2 separate regions of the Homo sapiens genome follow, and region 2 is linked to region 1. The links come from fine-mapping of genetic effects on gene expression. Tissue or cell type: cerebellar hemisphere. Region 1 holds a variant in brackets; the other region holds the start of a gene. All regions are shown on one strand. Distances are from middle to middle.

What was found. PIP is the estimated chance that this variant, and not a neighbour inherited with it, causes the effect.
Region 2: KCP starts here. The variant in region 1 is fine-mapped to the expression of KCP in cerebellar hemisphere (GTEx, PIP above 0.99). The same link has a PIP of 0.9 or more in cerebellum.

Annotation. Positions count from the first base shown.
Region 1 is chr7:128,877,817-128,885,987 of GRCh38, reverse strand. KCP (kielin cysteine rich BMP regulator) reads left to right here. Exons shown (of 40, transcript NM_001366122.1): 27 at 718-891; 28 at 1,125-1,207; 29 at 1,866-1,986; 30 at 3,972-4,051; 31 at 4,263-4,362; 32 at 4,903-4,991; 33 at 5,267-5,369; 34 at 5,460-5,602; 35 at 5,903-6,075; 36 at 6,159-6,270; 37 at 6,365-6,466; 38 at 7,266-7,430. Among named protein-coding and RNA genes, the nearest start is that of SPMIP1, 16 kb to the right of the region's middle. RefSeq lists enhancers at 670-1,269, 1,494-1,753, 2,204-2,313 and a silencer at 2,059-2,353. The variant G/A (reference allele first, on the strand shown) is at 4,970.
Region 2 is chr7:128,905,932-128,914,102 of GRCh38, reverse strand. It overlaps KCP (kielin cysteine rich BMP regulator), which reads left to right and starts at 3,394. Exons shown (of 40, transcript NM_001366122.1): 1 at 3,394-3,502; 2 at 5,535-5,677; 3 at 6,650-6,839; 4 at 6,926-7,002; 5 at 7,740-7,824. The coding sequence starts at 3,427. It also overlaps the pseudogene LOC392787.

The DNA of each region.
Region 1 (8,171 bases):
TCAGTGAGCAGGTAGCATGTGCCAGGCCCTGAGCACTTTACGTGTATTATCTCATTTAATCAGCACAACAACTTACCAGATAAGCACTCTTAGTCCTCCTATTTTACAGACGAGAAAGTGGAGGTACAGAGAGGTAGAGAAGGTGGCAGAGTCAAGATGGACACTTGGACCATCTGGCTCTGAACTTGAGCCTTTCTTAGCCTGCCCACTGCCCCCTCGTCCCACACCCTGCGCAGTGTGGTGGTGTTTCTACAGAACCACAGAACTGTCATAGCATTTCACTTGCTCTGGGAGGGAGGCAGGACAGAGGAAATCCCCATTTAACAGATGAGGAGACTGAGGCCCGGAGAGACTGAGTTACCTTGGGCACATGGTTAGCGATGGAGCCATTCACCTGGTCCACATGCATTTATGACACAGCTGCTGCATGCCAGGTCTGTGGCCGGTGCGGGCTGCACTGGGCAGTGCCTGCTGCCTGGAGCTTGGTCTTGAGAGCAGGTAGGAACAGAACAGGATTAGAACCCAGGTGTTCTGAACCCCTCCCAGTGCCTTTCCCCTCCACAACAGACAGGAGTTCTGCCCCATCGCACCTTCCCGCCATATCCCTGCAAACTCACTCCTGGCGCCACGTGCCTAGCTGACCACTGAGGGTGGGGGCCAGGAGCAGATGTCCAGATCTCAACCTCCGAGCTCGTCCCTGCCCACTTTGCACCACAGGCTGCCTGGCTCATGGGGAAGAGCACCCCGAAGGCAGTAGATGGGTGCCCCCCGACAGTGCCTGCTCCTCCTGTGTGTGTCACGAGGGCGTCGTCACCTGTGCACGCATCCAGTGCATCAGCTCTTGCGCCCAGCCCCGCCAAGGGCCCCATGACTGCTGTCCTCAATGCTCTGGTACTGGAAGCCTGGGGCGGGAGGGGAAAGGCGAGGAGGGAGCCCTGGGCCCACACCTCCCTGCCGCTGCTGGGCCGGGTGGCAGAGACAGGCAGTTGGAGAAGTGGCCTCCGTCCTTGTGCACACTCCACTCCCTGGGATCAGGGGGAGGCTGGAGATAGAGGACTCCACCCCTGCCTCGCTGCCAGCCTGAAGGACCCCTGGTCCCGTTCTGCTCTCACTCCACCCCAAAGACTGTGAGCATGAGGGCCGGAAGTACGAGCCTGGGGAGAGCTTCCAGCCTGGGGCAGACCCCTGTGAAGTGTGCATCTGCGAGGTAGGTGAGGGCACAGTGGTGGGGCTGGGGCACCTCGTCGGGGGGGAGTGGGCAGCATGGGATGAGGCCCAGCCAAGCTGGTCACTGCATGGAGCAGGCACTCTGGGGGCCAAAGGAGTGTATCCCTGTGGCCAGGAGACAAGGCAGGGTTGGGGCCAACAGGGCCAGGAGGTCTGGGTTTAGACAAGGAGCGCAGGTTCCAAGTGTGCAGGAGGCCGTAGGTGGCCCCCCTGGCTGCAGTGCAGGGCGGGTGTGTATGGCCGGAGAGCCACCTGGGACGTGGCTAGGGGTCATATTGTGGAGATTCTATTTGCAAGGCCATGGAAGGGCTTGGAGCAGGCAAATGACATCACAGGTCAGGGTACTAAGCCATGGGCCTGGGGAGGAGGATGGCATGAGCCTGCCGGAGGATCAAAGGTCACATGAGGGCTCAGGCCCAAGTGACTTAAAGGAGAAGGAGACATCATCTCAGAGACTAGGGCATGGGGTGAGGAGCACGTCTAGAAGACACTGAGTCTCTCTTCAGCCTTGAGTTCAGGGCCCAAGACATGTCCCGGAAGAGGCTGCAGCAGGCAGAGGGAGGGGCCGGAAGTCCCGGCCAAGGGCAGCTCTGGGTTTTTGTGGCCCAGGACCCACCGCTGCTCACTCATTCTTGTAGCCACAGCCTGAGGGGCCTCCCAGCCTTCGCTGTCACCGGCGGCAGTGTCCCAGCCTGGTGGGCTGCCCCCCCAGCCAGCTCCTGCCCCCTGGGCCCCAGCACTGCTGTCCCACCTGTGCCGGTGAGTCCAGGGATGTGGGGGTAGATGAGATATGAGGTTAGGGCTGCCACCCCCTGCCGCCCTTCCTCACCAGTCCCAGCCCCAGATTCTTCCTGACTCCAGTGGACTGTTCTGGAACCCTATGCCTGGCCGGCGAGGGCTGCACCATCCCTAAGGGAACTGGGGAAGCTGACAGGAACCCTTTGCCTCTCCGCAGCTGGGTGCAGTTTGTGGAGCATCTTGGCCAGCAGGTGGCGCTGCAGGGCGACAGTTGTGCTGAGACGTGAGGCCCAGGCAGGCAGGGGGTAGCCCAGCCACAGGGGTGGGCGAGCTTTTTTTGTTGTCGTTGTTAGAGTAAAAATTTATTAAGATTGGGGGGAAAAGTAAAGAAACAGTTTTATTTTTATTACAAATATTGAAAGATGGCCAATTTCTGTCTCCTGGATTTAATAGTTGTTTACCTAACACAGCCATTTTACATTTGTTGTGGAGGGAATTTTTTTCTGTTTCTGGTCCTATACCAACACTGAAATGATAACCTACCTTTGCAATACAGGTGAACGTTATCCTTACATAGAAAAAACAGGCCGAGGTTGGTAGCTCACGCCTGTAATCCCAGCACTTTGGGAGGCCAAGGTGGGAGGATCACAAGGTCAAGAGATCGAGACCATCCTGGCCAACATGGTGAAACCCCGTCTCTACTAAAAATACAAAAATTAGCTGGGCATGATGGGGCATGCCTGTAGTCCCAGCTACTCGGGAGGCTGAGGCAGGAGGATAGCTTGAACCCGGGAGGCAGAGGTTGCAGTGAGCTGAGATGGTGCCACTACACTGCAACCTGGCAACAGAGCGAGATTCTGTCTCAAAAAAAAAAAAAGAAAGAAAAAACATACTTTTTTTTTTAATGATAATCCTATTTTCTCCAATTTGGTTTTTTTATTTGGGTTTTGGTTTTTTTGAGACGGAGTCTCGCTTTGTCGCACAGGCTGGAGTGCGGTGGCACAATCTCGGCTCACTGCAACCTCTGGATTCGAGGGATTCACCTGCCTCAGCCTCCCGAGTAGCTGGGATTATAGGCATGCGCCATCAAGCCTGGCTAATTTTTGTATTTTTAGTAGAGATGGGGTTTTAACATGTTGGCCAGGCTGGTCTCGAACTCCTGACCTCAGGTGATCCACCCGCCTCAGCCTCCGAAAGAGCTGGATTACAGGTGTGAGCCACCTCGCCGACTTTTCTGTTTTTTGTTTGTTTGTTTGTTTGTTTGTTTTTTATGGTGGTAAGACACTAAAATGTACAATCCTAACCATTTTTAAGTGTACAGTTTGTGGTATTAAATACGTTCATAATGCTGTGCAGTCATCCCTGGCATCCATCAGGGAGGGCTGCTCTGATCAACACTTGCTAGGGGGTGCTTCAGGGGAAGGGAAGAAGACTAACATTGATTAAGCACCTGTTCCATGCCACAGACTGTACTTGGTGCTCTTAATAAAGTCTCTCGCTTCATTTTCATAGTTACCCAGTGAGGGAAGTATTATTAATCTCTTTTTACAGATTAAGAAACTGAGGCTCAGAGAGGTGGATTAATCCAACCTAATAAGCACAGGCACTGAGTGCTGGCATCAGGATTCGAACCCGGGATGCCTGGCTGTGTGCTTCCCTGCGCAGTTGTAGCCACACTGTATTACAGATAGCGGGAGGGAGAGCAGGCCGCAGACTGGCCATTTTTAGTGACCTCAGGCTAAGGAAGCCATGGTTGGTCTGTTTCCAGTCACCTTGCACCCCCACCCGGCCCCAAATAATAGCCTAGCAAAGTTTCTTTTAAAACGTGTAAACTTGACTGAATTGAAGAGAAAGAGGACTTATCCTCCCTGGAGTCAAGGTGCTGGGATATGGGTATGCTCAGGAGTTCGAGTTAGAAACCTGGGGACACAGTGCATGGGGACAGCTGGGATTTCCAGCCCTGTGCCCCTCTTTCTGTCCCGCACTCTGGATTCTTGTCTTCACAGAGGCCTTGAGTAACTGTTCAGAGGGCCTGCTGGGATCTGAGCTAGCCCCACCAGACCCCTGCTACACGTGCCAGTGCCAGGTGAGCCCTCCTGCCTTGGGGACTCACAGAGCCCCTCTTCTTCCTTCTCTGTGGGCTGTGGCTGCCACTCCTCTCCCGCAGCAGCTCCAGGGCTCTCCATTCGCCCTGACATTTGCCCACTTGTCCTGACTGTCACATCCTGCCTATGCCTTACTCCTCCACCAGCTCCCTGAGATCTGCCATTCTCTACCTCTTGTGTTCACATGGGCAGGACCTGACATGGCTCTGCATCCACCAGGCTTGTCCTGAGCTCAGCTGTCCCCTCTCAGAGCGCCACACTCCCCCTGGGAGCTGCTGCCCCGTATGCCGGGGTAAGTGCCCAGCCTTGGCCTCCACCCTCAGAGAGGAGCCCAGGGGGAACACAGGAAGGGGAGGCATTCATGGGCCAAGCGGGCAGCCCAGGGTTTGTACTCGGTTTCTAGAACAGAATGCAGGGTTCATTCTTTTCTAGAAATGGAGGGGGGCTGTTCTTGAGGTGGAGAAGAGACCCATGAGGCAGGGGGAAGCTGGGATGAAGCCTAGATTCTCAAGGTCTGGCCTGATGCCTGTCAGGGGGCTCAGGATCCCCAGGCCCATGAAGAGGGCATTGCACTGCTGAGCGGGCAGCTGGCCCAGAGTGGGGTTCCAGCCTCTGGCCCTTTGGGCTCCTAGGACCCTAGAGACATCCTGAGCTCTGATGTGAGGCCTGATGTCTAATAGGCCCTGTGGATATTGGCTGAAGAAATCAACACCATCAGGGTGGTAGGGACACGGAGTGGGTGCTTTCCTGCCGTGAAATGCTGGGTAAGCTCCAAGGAGGGAGGATACAGCAGGAGGGACAGTGCCTGCCCATCCCATGTCTCCCCCCTCAGAATGTGTGGTGGAGGCCGAGGGCCGGAGAGTGGCAGATGGAGAGAGCTGGCGGGACCCCAGCAATGC[G/A]TGCATCGCCTGCACCTGCCATGTGAGCTGGGGTGGGCCTGGGAGGGTGGAGGATCTCGCAGATGGATAAAGGGAGGAGTGTCCAACACTCCACCAGCAGATATGGGGTCTTTAAGGGTCAGGGGCATCCCTGCACCGGGGCATGGAGCCGAAGGCTGGATTTCATTCCCCTCTTGAACTGTGAAGAATGTATTGTGGGAGGGGCAGGCAGAAGTCCATGCCCAGAGGCCCCCAGAAGCATGAGGCTGGGGACTCCGGCCCTGCAGAAAACCCCAGAACAATGATGTCTGTCCTCAGCGGGGCCATGTGGAGTGCCACCTCGAGGAGTGCCAGGCCCTCTCCTGCCCCCATGGCTGGGCGAAGGTGCCCCAGGCTGACAGCTGCTGTGAGCGATGCCAAGGTGCGCAGCCAGGGTGATGGGGGAGGGGTAAGCCAGACCTTCTGGGCATGTGGGAGGAGCAGCTGACCCTCCCAGCTCCTATCCCTTCAGCTCCCACCCAGTCCTGCGTGCACCAGGGCCGTGAGGTGGCCTCTGGAGAGCGCTGGACTGTGGACACCTGCACCAGCTGCTCCTGCATGGCGGGCACCGTGCGTTGCCAGAGCCAGCGCTGCTCACCGCTCTCGTGTGGCCCCGTGAGTGCCGCAATCTAAAATGGTGGGGAGGGTCAGGGTGGGGGCACATGGTACCGCCATCCTGGTGTGACCAGGCATCAGAGAGGGAGGCTGGGCTCCTGCCGCCAGCTGGGAGCTGGGGACAGTGCTGTTCCCAGTGCGACCACGATGTGGTGCCCTGACCTCACTCACAGGGAGCCTGGGAGCCAGAGTCCTGGAGATCCCTGGAGACTCCTGGGAGATGCTTGGTTTTCTGGGAGGGTCTGCGAGAGGCATGGCGGGGAGGGCGGTGTGTCTGACAGTGTCTGGGGCTGAGTGCAGGACAAGGCCCCTGCCCTGAGTCCTGGCAGCTGCTGCCCCCGCTGCCTGCCTCGGCCCGCTTCCTGCATGGCCTTCGGAGACCCCCATTACCGCACCTTCGACGGCCGCCTGCTGCACTTCCAGGGCAGTTGCAGCTATGTGCTGGCCAAGGACTGCCACAGCGGGGACTTCAGGTGTGCATCCCCTGTCTCTCTTCTCCCCAACCCCTACACCCAGCCCTGCTGACCATTGGCACCTGGGACTTTCCTGCCCACAGTGTGCACGTGACCAATGATGACCGGGGCCGGAGCGGTGTGGCCTGGACCCAGGAGGTGGCGGTGCTGCTGGGAGACATGGCCGTGCGGCTGCTGCAGGACGGGGCAGTCACGGTGAGCAAAGCCGAGGAGTGGAGGAAGGTGGATCCTGTGCTGTCCACCCATGTGCCTCGACATCACCCCTCCTCCCACCTCCTTTATCCTCCAGGTGGATGGGCACCCGGTGGCCTTGCCCTTCCTGCAGGAGCCGCTGCTGTATGTGGAGCTGCGAGGACACACTGTGATCCTGCACGCCCAGCCCGGGCTCCAGGTGCGGCTCCAGGGCGAGTCTGGGTGGGCTGCCTGCTGGGAGCTTCAGTCCTGTTTAGGCCTCTGTATCTGTAGAGGGGGTGGGGATGCCAGCTACCTCCTAGCCAAAAAAGGCAAGGAGTGGGGTACAGGGGTGTGAGGGGAGGTGGATCAGGGTCAGAGATCTCCCCAGGCAGTCAGAGGAGTTCTGAGTTCTGAGCCCGATTTCTAATCTCGGCTCAGCCTCTTAAGCCACCACCAGCCTCCTCTGGGCCACAGATTTCTCGTCTGTAAAGTGGGGAATGGGAAGGGTCAGTGGCAGTGGGGAGGATGTCAGCTGAAGTCTCCTGGGGGGGTGTCTCAGGTTCCTTCCAACTCTCATGTGGAAGAGTAATTTGCCCCCTGCCCCCAGCAGGAAACACAACTCGTAAATTCGTAGAATAAGGGTGTACACTTCTAATCCGGACCCTAATTGTGCTTTGTCCTCTGCAAGGCCCGAATGCCCATGAGAAAGTGAATCCCCGGAAGGGGGTTGCATTTCACCTGGGGCCCAGTGCAGGGATGGCAGCAGGAGAAGGTGCCCTCATGCAGGAGCTGTGGGCAGCTCCTCCTGTCATCTGTCTTTGCCCAGGGCTGGCACAGAATGTATCCACTTGGCCTTGGCCAGGGTGGTGTTTCTTCCAAGGGGAGCCTCCACCTGTCCATTCTCCTCCCCTACAGCACTGGCCGCACTGAACACAGTGCCTGGGGCCATGATGGACCCTGGGCTTCTTAAGGCCCCTGTCCTTCCCTGCTCCCCAGTCTCAGGCCTCTCCACACAGGTGCTGTGGGATGGGCAGTCCCAGGTGGAGGTGAGCGTACCTGGCTCCTACCAGGGCCGGACTTGTGGGCTCTGTGGGAACTTCAATGGCTTTGCCCAGGACGATCTGCAGGGCCCTGAGGGGCTGCTCCTGCCCTCGGAGGCTGCGTTTGGGAATAGCTGGCAGGTGAGTGGTACAGGAACCGGGGATGGGGATTAGGGGAGACGCAGCTGAGCATGAGTCTCAGAGCAACCCTCTGGCATGGAAAGCAGGGAAGGGGGGCGAAGTCACACAAGATAGGCTTTTGGGCTTTCAGGGAGGTGTGGGGGCTTCTTGCCTGTCTTGGTGCTGGAGAGGTAGGGTGGCTTGTCAAAAGAGGCCTCATTGGCCGGGCAGGGTGGCTCATGCCTATAATCCCAGCACTTTGGGATGCCGAGGTGGGTGGATCACCTGAGGTTGGGAGTTTGAAACCAGCCTGACCAACATGGAGAAACCCCATCTCTACTAAAAATACAAAATTAGCCCAGCCTGGTGGTGCATATGCCTGTAATCCCAGCTACTCGGGTGGCTGAGGCAGGAGAATCACTTGAACCCAGGAAGTGGAAGTTGTGGTGAGCTGAGATCGTGCCACTGCACTCCAGCCTGAGCAACAAGAGCAAAATTCTGTCTCAAAAAAAAAAAAAAAAAAGAAGGCTTGTTACCTGAACCCTCAAGCCTTGCTTTGCCACTCACTGGCTGTGTGACCTTGGACAAGTGCTGACCTACTCTGGCCTTGGTCTGTCCTTCTGTAAAATGGGGACAAAAAGAAGGTAGACAGTACTTCATTTGCTGTTCTTTTAGGGAGGTTTTGGGGACTAAAGCAAATGACTGGGTGGGAAGTGCTTTGAAGAGCACGGCATGCAGAGGCCAGCTGCCAGTGGTGCTGTC
Region 2 (8,171 bases), 28 kb before region 1:
GCCCTTCCTGCCCTCAGCCTTGCTACCTCTGGCCCCCAGGTGTGTCATCAGAGATCATGTGAACGCCCTGAACGCCTGCTCGGGGACCTTGTCTGTCACCATTGATGGCCCCACCAAGGTGCAGCTGGACTGTTGGGAGTGTCCTGAGGGCCACGTGGTCACTGACACTCCCATGGCCCCTGGCAACTACCTCATTGCCATCAAGTACGGTGGCCCCCAGCACATCGTGGGCAGCCCCTTCAAGGCCAAGGTCACTGGTGAGTGCCGGTTTGGGGGAGGTCCACCCAGCCTGCAGCCCAGCCCAGCCTGGAGGGCTCCGGTGGCCACGCACATCTAGGCCATAGTCTGCCCCCAGACATCATGGTCAGTTTACCAGGGCTAGAGGTGGGCCTGGCTCTACACAGTACACGTTCTGTGGAGTCGGGCATGATCATGTAAAAATGCCATTCTTCCTCTCCATCGTGGCCCCTCACTCCTTCAGCTCTGGCCTGCGCTGGCTCCTCAGGCTCTAGCACCACTTTCTTCCCTCCTGGCTTCCCATATTCCTCCGCTCCAAGAAGACACAGTCGGTATTGAGCAAGCTTCCCCTCTTGAGGCTGTCTGTAGGATGAGTTGGGTGGGTGTTCCTTTGTAAAGTGGCTCTTACCCTGTGAGTTAGCCTGAGTTCCCAGACAAAGCCTGCAAGGATGAGGGACGCAGCATCTGAGGCCCCAGCCCTAGGGTGGAGCACCAATTGGAGCTGGCAGCTCAGGGCCCTGGCTGGGAATGGGGCTGTGCTCCTAGAGTGGCCCTTGGAGGAATTTGGGGGGGAACCTCAAATGCAGGCAGTGAGTCCCACAGGGTGGCAGTGCTGGCCGAGGGTCCCCTGCCTGGGGAAGAACGGGAAGCCCTTCTGACTAGGTTTGTGCCCCCTCCACCCACCCCTCAGGTCCGAGGCTGTCCGGAGGCCACAGCCTTCACGAAACATCCACGGTTCTGGTGGAGACTGTGACCAAGTCCTCCTCAAGCCGGGGCTCCAGCTACAACTCCATCCCCAAGTTCTCCTCAGATGCCAGCAAGGTGGTGACTCGGGGCCCTGGGCTGTCCCAGGCCTTCGTGGGCCAGAAGAACTCCTTCACCGTGGACTGCAGCAAAGCAGGCAGGTGGCGGGGGGAGGGCGTCTCCCGGGGTGTGAGCAAGAAGCCGTCAGGGAGCAGGGTGTGGGTCACAGTAGGGGACTCCCTGGTGTGAGCCTGTCCCTCTGCCTCCCTCTCCAGGCACCAACATGATGATGGTGGGCGTGCACGGCCCCAAGACCCCCTGTGAGGAGGTGTACGTGAAGCACATGGGGAACCGGGTGTACAATGTCACCTACACTGTCAAGGAGAAAGGGACTACATCCTTATCGTCAAGTGGGGTGACGAAAGTGTCCCTGGAAGCCCCTTCAAAGTCAAGGTCCCTTGAGTCCCAAAAGTGCCTCCCCAGCCTCAGCCCCCACCTCCAGCCAAACACACATTACATACACACACACACACACACAAATGTGCCACACCCAGACACACACACACAGAATCAGACACTACAAACACCTGCCTTGGGGGTGAAGTGAAGGCCCAGCCTCCCCACCCCACCGCACCCCAGGGGTTGGAGGACCTTTTCTGTGTCAGGACAGTGTCCCTCCCTGGGAATGTGATATGAGGGCCGACTGGGGCCAGGCTCAGTGGCAGAGGCTAAGACACAAGGGACTGGAAGGGGACTGTGGGGCGAGGGAAGCCCTGTGCATCCTCCCAGTGTGGTTTAGAGCTGCTCACCCTGATTCTCTCTGATTCTTTCTGTAAAATGGGGATGGAGGTGCCCCCATTCTTCATAAGGGAAGTAAAAATTGCTCATACCTCTGTGCCAAGCACCATGCATTACTAATCCTTACAAACACTCCATGAGGTGGGTGCTGTTAGAGCTCCAGTCACAGTTCAGAAAAATCAGCCACCAAAAGTGAAGTGACCAGCCAGAGGCCCCAGAGCAGAAAGCAAGAGCTCCAGGATGCGCCCTGGCAACCCTGCCAGAATCTGTGCTCTGAACCGTCCCACTACCCAGCCCCTCAGAGGACTTGCTTTCCAGAGGCACCCGGTCAATGAAAGCCACCTTCCTTAAACCTGCCAGGAATAGTGCTGCCGCTTCCTTGTTCCTCTTCTGGCTGGCTGGCCCTGGCTTTCCTCTGTGACCTCAGCTCCAGGCACTGAGGCCAGGTCTTAGCGTGGCATTGCAGCCTCCCTGCCCCCTGTGGCAAAGGCTCAGGTCCACTATGGGCCCAGACTCTGGGGCAGAGAAGCTGCCGTCTCCTTACTGAAGCTTTAAGCTTGGTGGAGAGTGGGCTGGGGAGACCTCAGTCCCTGCCTGGTCTAGGGGGAGGGGTGGCTTCCGACTTCTGGTCTTTATGACAGGGAGGGAGAGCTTTGGAAGGGTTCACAGCTCCGCCCTCAATGTTCCTTTTTGCCTGTGAGCTTCGCCTGTGAGACCCAACCCTCTGCTTCCCAGCTTCAAGGAGGAGTTTCCCAGCCTGTGGGCCCACAGGGACGGCTGTCCTCACTTCCTCCCTTTGGCCCCCTCTGCCTGCTGAGCCCAGGGCCCAGCCCTGCCCCCTACCCAGGCTCACCCCACAGCCAGGCCTGAGCTCAGGAGTGGGAAATGGGGCTGAGACCAGCCAGTGAAGGGCGGCCTTGGCATTTGGGGCCAAGCCTGGGACTGCTGGGGTGGGTAGGGGTGTTGAGTGGAGTTCAGGAAAGAAACTTATAGGGGAGAGAGGAAAACACTGGTCGTGTCCATGATTTCAGAGATCAGGAGTTCTTATTATTATTATTTGTTATTTACTGAGCATTTACCATCTCTCTACCGACTCTAAATTCTTTACTTATATAATCTCACTTAATGCTCACTGCAAGTCTATAAAGTAGATGTGGTGATCCCCAGTTTACAGATAGGGAAATTGAGGCACAGAGAAGTTAGTGGTCTAAGGCCACATGGAATTGGCTGAGCAGGGATCTAAACCCAGCTCAGTCTGCTTCTTCTGTAAACTTGTGAGAGAGAGGAAAAATCGATCTGGAAACCCTAGGGCGATGGAGTAACCTAAAAGGGCAGGGAGACTCTCTAGGATCCCGAGAGGGGTGGACTTGGGTTTATTTTCTTTTCAGGGTCTCCTCCTGGATCTTAAGCGGAGACAAGGCCTACACCCCCGTTGGGCTTCCTGCGAGCTGGAGCTGCTCTCTGGGGTCAGGACCGGCCGGGCCCGGGGCGGGTGGAGGTGTGCATGGGAAAGGCGCGCGCGGTGGGGGGTTTGAGCCCTCCCTGAACAAAGCCTGGGTGGGAGCGGCCTGTGTGTCCCCACCCCGCCTTCCCCAGCGCCTGCTGAGCCGCGACGACAGACGGCGAGCCGAGCGAGGCGGAGCTAGCATGGCCGGGGTCGGGGCCGCTGCGCTGTCCCTTCTCCTGCACCTCGGGGCCCTGGCGCTGGCCGCGGGCGCGGAAGGTGAGTCCAGGTGCGGGAGGCTTGGGGTCCGGCCAGGTGCGCCCCCTCCCTCCTATCAGCCCGGCCTGAGGGGGCCGAGAGGGGCTGGGGGCTCTGCTCTTAGCCCTGCCTGAGGTTCGCGCGCCTCCCTGGCCAGCTCCGTCCTCCCCGTCGGGGGAGCGAGCAGGGTGGGGAAGACCACGGCCAAAGCAGGGGGTTCAGGAGAGGGGGGCGGTTCCTGCAGCCGGCGGCGGGAGAGAGTGCGGCTGCCCTGGCATCTGGGAGTCTGAAGTTAATTATTTGTCTTGACGAAGGAGGGGGAGAAAAGGGGCCCGCTGTGGAAGCTGACTTTGCATCTGTGTCTGGCCCTCCCCGGAGCAGGACAGGCGGGAATGGAGGGCTCGGTGCCGGCACGGGGCCAGGGGAGGCTAAGAGGGGAACCCGGGACAATTCCTTGGGGACCAGCCAAGTTTGTGCCACTCGGAGCTCTTTCTGCAGGTCTCTCCAGGCGAGGCTGGCCCTAGCTTCACCTAGGGGTCCCAGAGGATTCAGCTTCTCCCGGGCTCCCATATCCTGCCTGCCTACTTAAGCAGAACTGGAGGAGTGGCCTGGGAGGAGGGGCCCTGGGCAGCAGGATGAGGCCCCACGGGAGTCTAGATTGGGTAGAAGGTTTCAGATGCTGAGACGCCCATCGTGGCCGCCCTCTGTGTGCTTGGGAAGGACTGAGACCGGGTGCCATTCCGGGTGACAGGATCCCCAGTAGAGGGACGGAGATGGGAAAGGGCACCTGGGGTTTGAGGGCCAGTATTCGCCCAGGGTGCGGGAACTGAGTTAGAATCCCTGATATAAGCCAGAAGTAGCGGGGCTGGAAAGGTGGGCGGTGCTTGTGATCCATCCCAGCGGGACTTGCTCCTGGGAGACTTCGGCTGTGTGATTCAGAAAGGTCGAGTGGAGAGAAGGGGCACAGATGGAGGCAGGGACGCTTTGTCTTCAGCCTTCTGAATGGAGATGGTGGAGAGAGGAGAAGGGGGGGATGTATTAGGGGACAACTCAGGCAACAAAATAGGGGAGCTGAGCCCCAGCTTTCTGGCTTAAGTAACTGGGTATGTGTGATGGCATTAACCAAGCCAGGGAACTTGGGACAAAGCAAGTTCAATTTTAGCCTAGAATCCCCTCTGCCTTTGATGGTGACAGTGGGTGACATTGTTCCCCTGTCTCACAGGCCTAGTGTCTGTGAGAAACCCTTTTAAGCCACTCCAGGCCTGGCCTCACTAATGAGCTGCCATGGTGGGAAAGACCCATCCCTCTCCCTCCTCCTCTCTCTGTTCCTATTGCCTCCGCTCCAGACCCTCAACTTCCCTGCCCATCCCTGCCTGGAGGAGGGACCTATGTCTGCCTCTTCCCCTCCTGCCTTTACTTTCTGGGCTGCAGGAGAAGGATCAAAGTGAAAAGGTGAAAGTGGCCGCCCCTAACCCCAGGCCAGAGCTCAGAGGTGCCCCGTCCCTCTTTCCTGGACATAGTGTCTTCTAGAAGCAGGGACAGGCTGTCTTCACTGGATCTGGTGTGTTCAAAGTTAGCAGGGGCCTTGCCAGCACATTTCTCACACCCTTCAGAAAATGCAGCCAAGTCCCACTTTTGAAGCCCACCCCACCCAATGTGGGAGCCCCCAGGAACCCCTGTCACAAGCCTGGAAAACCGTGCTCAGGGTTGGGGGCGGGAGCAGTTGTCCTTCCCTGAGCACATTCTCCAAAAGTTGTGGCCTTTCTGACAGGTGCAGAGAGTCAGGGGATGGGGGCTGCTCATGTTCTCCCTGAAAAGACTCTCAGCCAGACCCCAGACCCCTGAAAGCAGCTCCACCTGGCGCATGTCTGTGGCCTTCCCCTGCGTTTCAGCCTGTGCTGGCTTCCCGGCCCTGGATGGTGGGTGGGCAATTGGAGAGGGCAGGGTGCACAGGATGACCCCCTTCCCCTGTGGGTCAGAAGACAGAACCCAGAAAATGTGGCCAGGCCAGCCCCTCACCCTCAGGCCCACATGGGATTCTTGTGCCCTTCAGGTGGGGCTGTCCCCAGGGAGCCCCCTGGGCAGCAGACAACTGCCCATTCCTCAGTCCTTGCTGGGAACTCCCAGGAGCAGTGGCACCCCCTGCGAGAGTGGCTGGGGCGACTGGAGGCTGCAGTGATGGAGCTCAGAGAACAGGTACCATGGAGACAGTGCTGGTTTGCATTGGGTAAGGAGGGCTTCTCATAGTGGGAGGGAGAGAAGGAGTTAGGCTTGGAGGGGGGAGCCTAAAATAGAGCTCTTATCTGAACAATTCCCTTTCTTTCTTTCTTTCTTTCTTTCTTTCTTTCTTTCTTTCTTTCTTTCTTTCTTCTTTCTTTCTTCCTTTCTTCTTTCCTTCCCTCCTTCCTTTCTTTTTTTTTCTTTCTTTTCCTTCCTTCCTTCCTTCCATCCTTCTTCTCTCTTTCTCTCTCTCTCTTTCTTTTTTTTTTTTTTGAGATGGAGTCACCATGTGTCACCCAGGCTGGAGTGCAGTGGCACAATCTCAGCTCCCTGCAACCTCTGCCTCCTGGGTTCAAGTGATTCTTACGCTTCAGCCTCCTGAGTAGTTGGGACTACAAGTGTGCACCACCATACCCGGCTAATTTTTGTATTTTTAGTAGAGATAGGATTTCACCACGTTGGCCAGGCTGGTCTCGAACTCCTGACCTTAGGTGATCTGCCCGCCTCAGCCTCTCCAAGTGCTGGGATTACAGGTGTGAGCCACCAGGCCTGGCCAGAACAATTCTTAACATTGATTCTTTCATGCAAATGAAGAACCTCCAGGCTATTTGTTTTGTCAGTTCGTGTTTCGTACTGTTCCATGTATTTGGGGAATGTTATGGAATGCATTCTATATAAGGCATCATCAAAAATATTTTGGATGGGTAAAGATGTCTTTAATTCTTGGGGCAAGGGTTGGGTCCCCATTTTGTCCAAAGGAGAGATTGGGGCCCGTGCCCCCCTGAGAATGGTGATCGTTTGAGCTGGATGCTGACCGAGGGGGACCCATCTCTGCTCTGGAATTGGCGAACTTCTTTCTCATCCTGCCTCATTTTCACACCCCTCATCTCTACTGGAGATGGTGGGGGAAGCTGAGCCAGTGCCTGCTATTCCATCTCCTTCCTCCAGAATAAGGACCTGCAGACGAGGGTGAGGCAGCTGGAGTCCTGTGAGTGCCACCCTGCATCTCCCCAGTGCTGGGGGCTGGGGCGTGCCTGGCCCGAGGGGGCACGCTGGGAGCCTGACGCCTGCACAGCCTGCGTCTGCCAGGATGGGGCCGCTCACTGTGGCCCCCAAGCACACCTGCCCCATTGCAGGGGTAAGTGCCACCCTATCCGCCCACTGGGGCCACCTAAAGACCTGCAGATGGCATGGGGTGCTTGAGTGACACTGCTGTCTCCTTAGGCTGCAGCCAAAATGGCCAGACCTACGGCAACGGGGAGACCTTCTCCCCAGATGCCTGCACCACCTGCCGCTGTCTGGTAAGCTCCCAGGACCTACCTGGATATCCCTCACCTGTCTGCCTCTCTCCAGCTACCTGTCACTGCAGCGTGGCACTCAAGATGTCGCATAATGGGCTCTGCCTGCCACTCCCACACCTTGCCACGGTGGCTTTCAGTTGATTCCGAGTAGGAAAAGGAGCTCAATGCCCACGGACACTGGGGGGTCCCCAAGCCACTCAATTCAGACCTGGCCAACAGTGGCATGGAGGGCAGAGAATGTATTAGGTTGGTGCAAAAGTAATTGCGGTTTTTGACATGACTTTTAATGGCAAAAACCGCAATTACTTTTGCACCAACTTAATAGTTGCTTGTCCTCCTATATCACCTCCCACTCTTCCACTGCCCATCTTCTACTTCGGAACCCCCTGGCCTGCCTATTCTCCCTCACCAGTTGCCACATCCACCTTCCCCCAGTCTTTCCTTCCTCCTTCCTCCCTGAGAAAGTCTTCGGTCTTCTTCCTAGGATCTCCCCTCTCTGGGGAATGTGCTGGCACCTGGAAGAGATGGTTTCCTAGGGTTAAGAGCATCAGGAGACGATGGGAGTGGGGGCGGGATGTCTCTTTTCTGCCTTTACACAGAGGGTAGCCCACATCCACAGAGCCAACTCATCCTCTTGCCCCTATGACATGTCCCAGCCTGGGCTGAGGTTTTACTTCCAGAGGCCCTGCCCTCCAGGAATCTGATGTCTGTGCAGCCACCTCAGTCTGCTCCCACAGGAAGGTACCATCACTTGCAACCAGAAGCCATGCCCAAGAGGACCCTGCCCTGAGCCAGGAGCATGCTGCCCGCACTGTAAGCCAGGTCAGCCTCCTGCCAGTCTCAGCCCCACCTCCTGCTTGCCTTCTCTGGCCCACAGACACAGCCTGCCACCTCAGTGAGTCTGGGACATGCCCAGGGGTGCCTACCCACTCACTCTGACAGTGGCCAGGGGAGTGCAGAACCCATGCACAAATCAGCAAATACTGGCTCTGGCCTGGGACTGAGCCAGAGACCATAGGGAAACAGGCACAAAATCTTTTTCCTGCCCTCAGGGAGCCTCCAATCTAGTTGAGAAGATAAGCTCATAGCCAAGCTACCACAAGATTGAAGACCCAATGAGCAGATTAAGAGGAGGTGTAGAAGGCAGTGCAGTGTGTATTTTGCCAGAG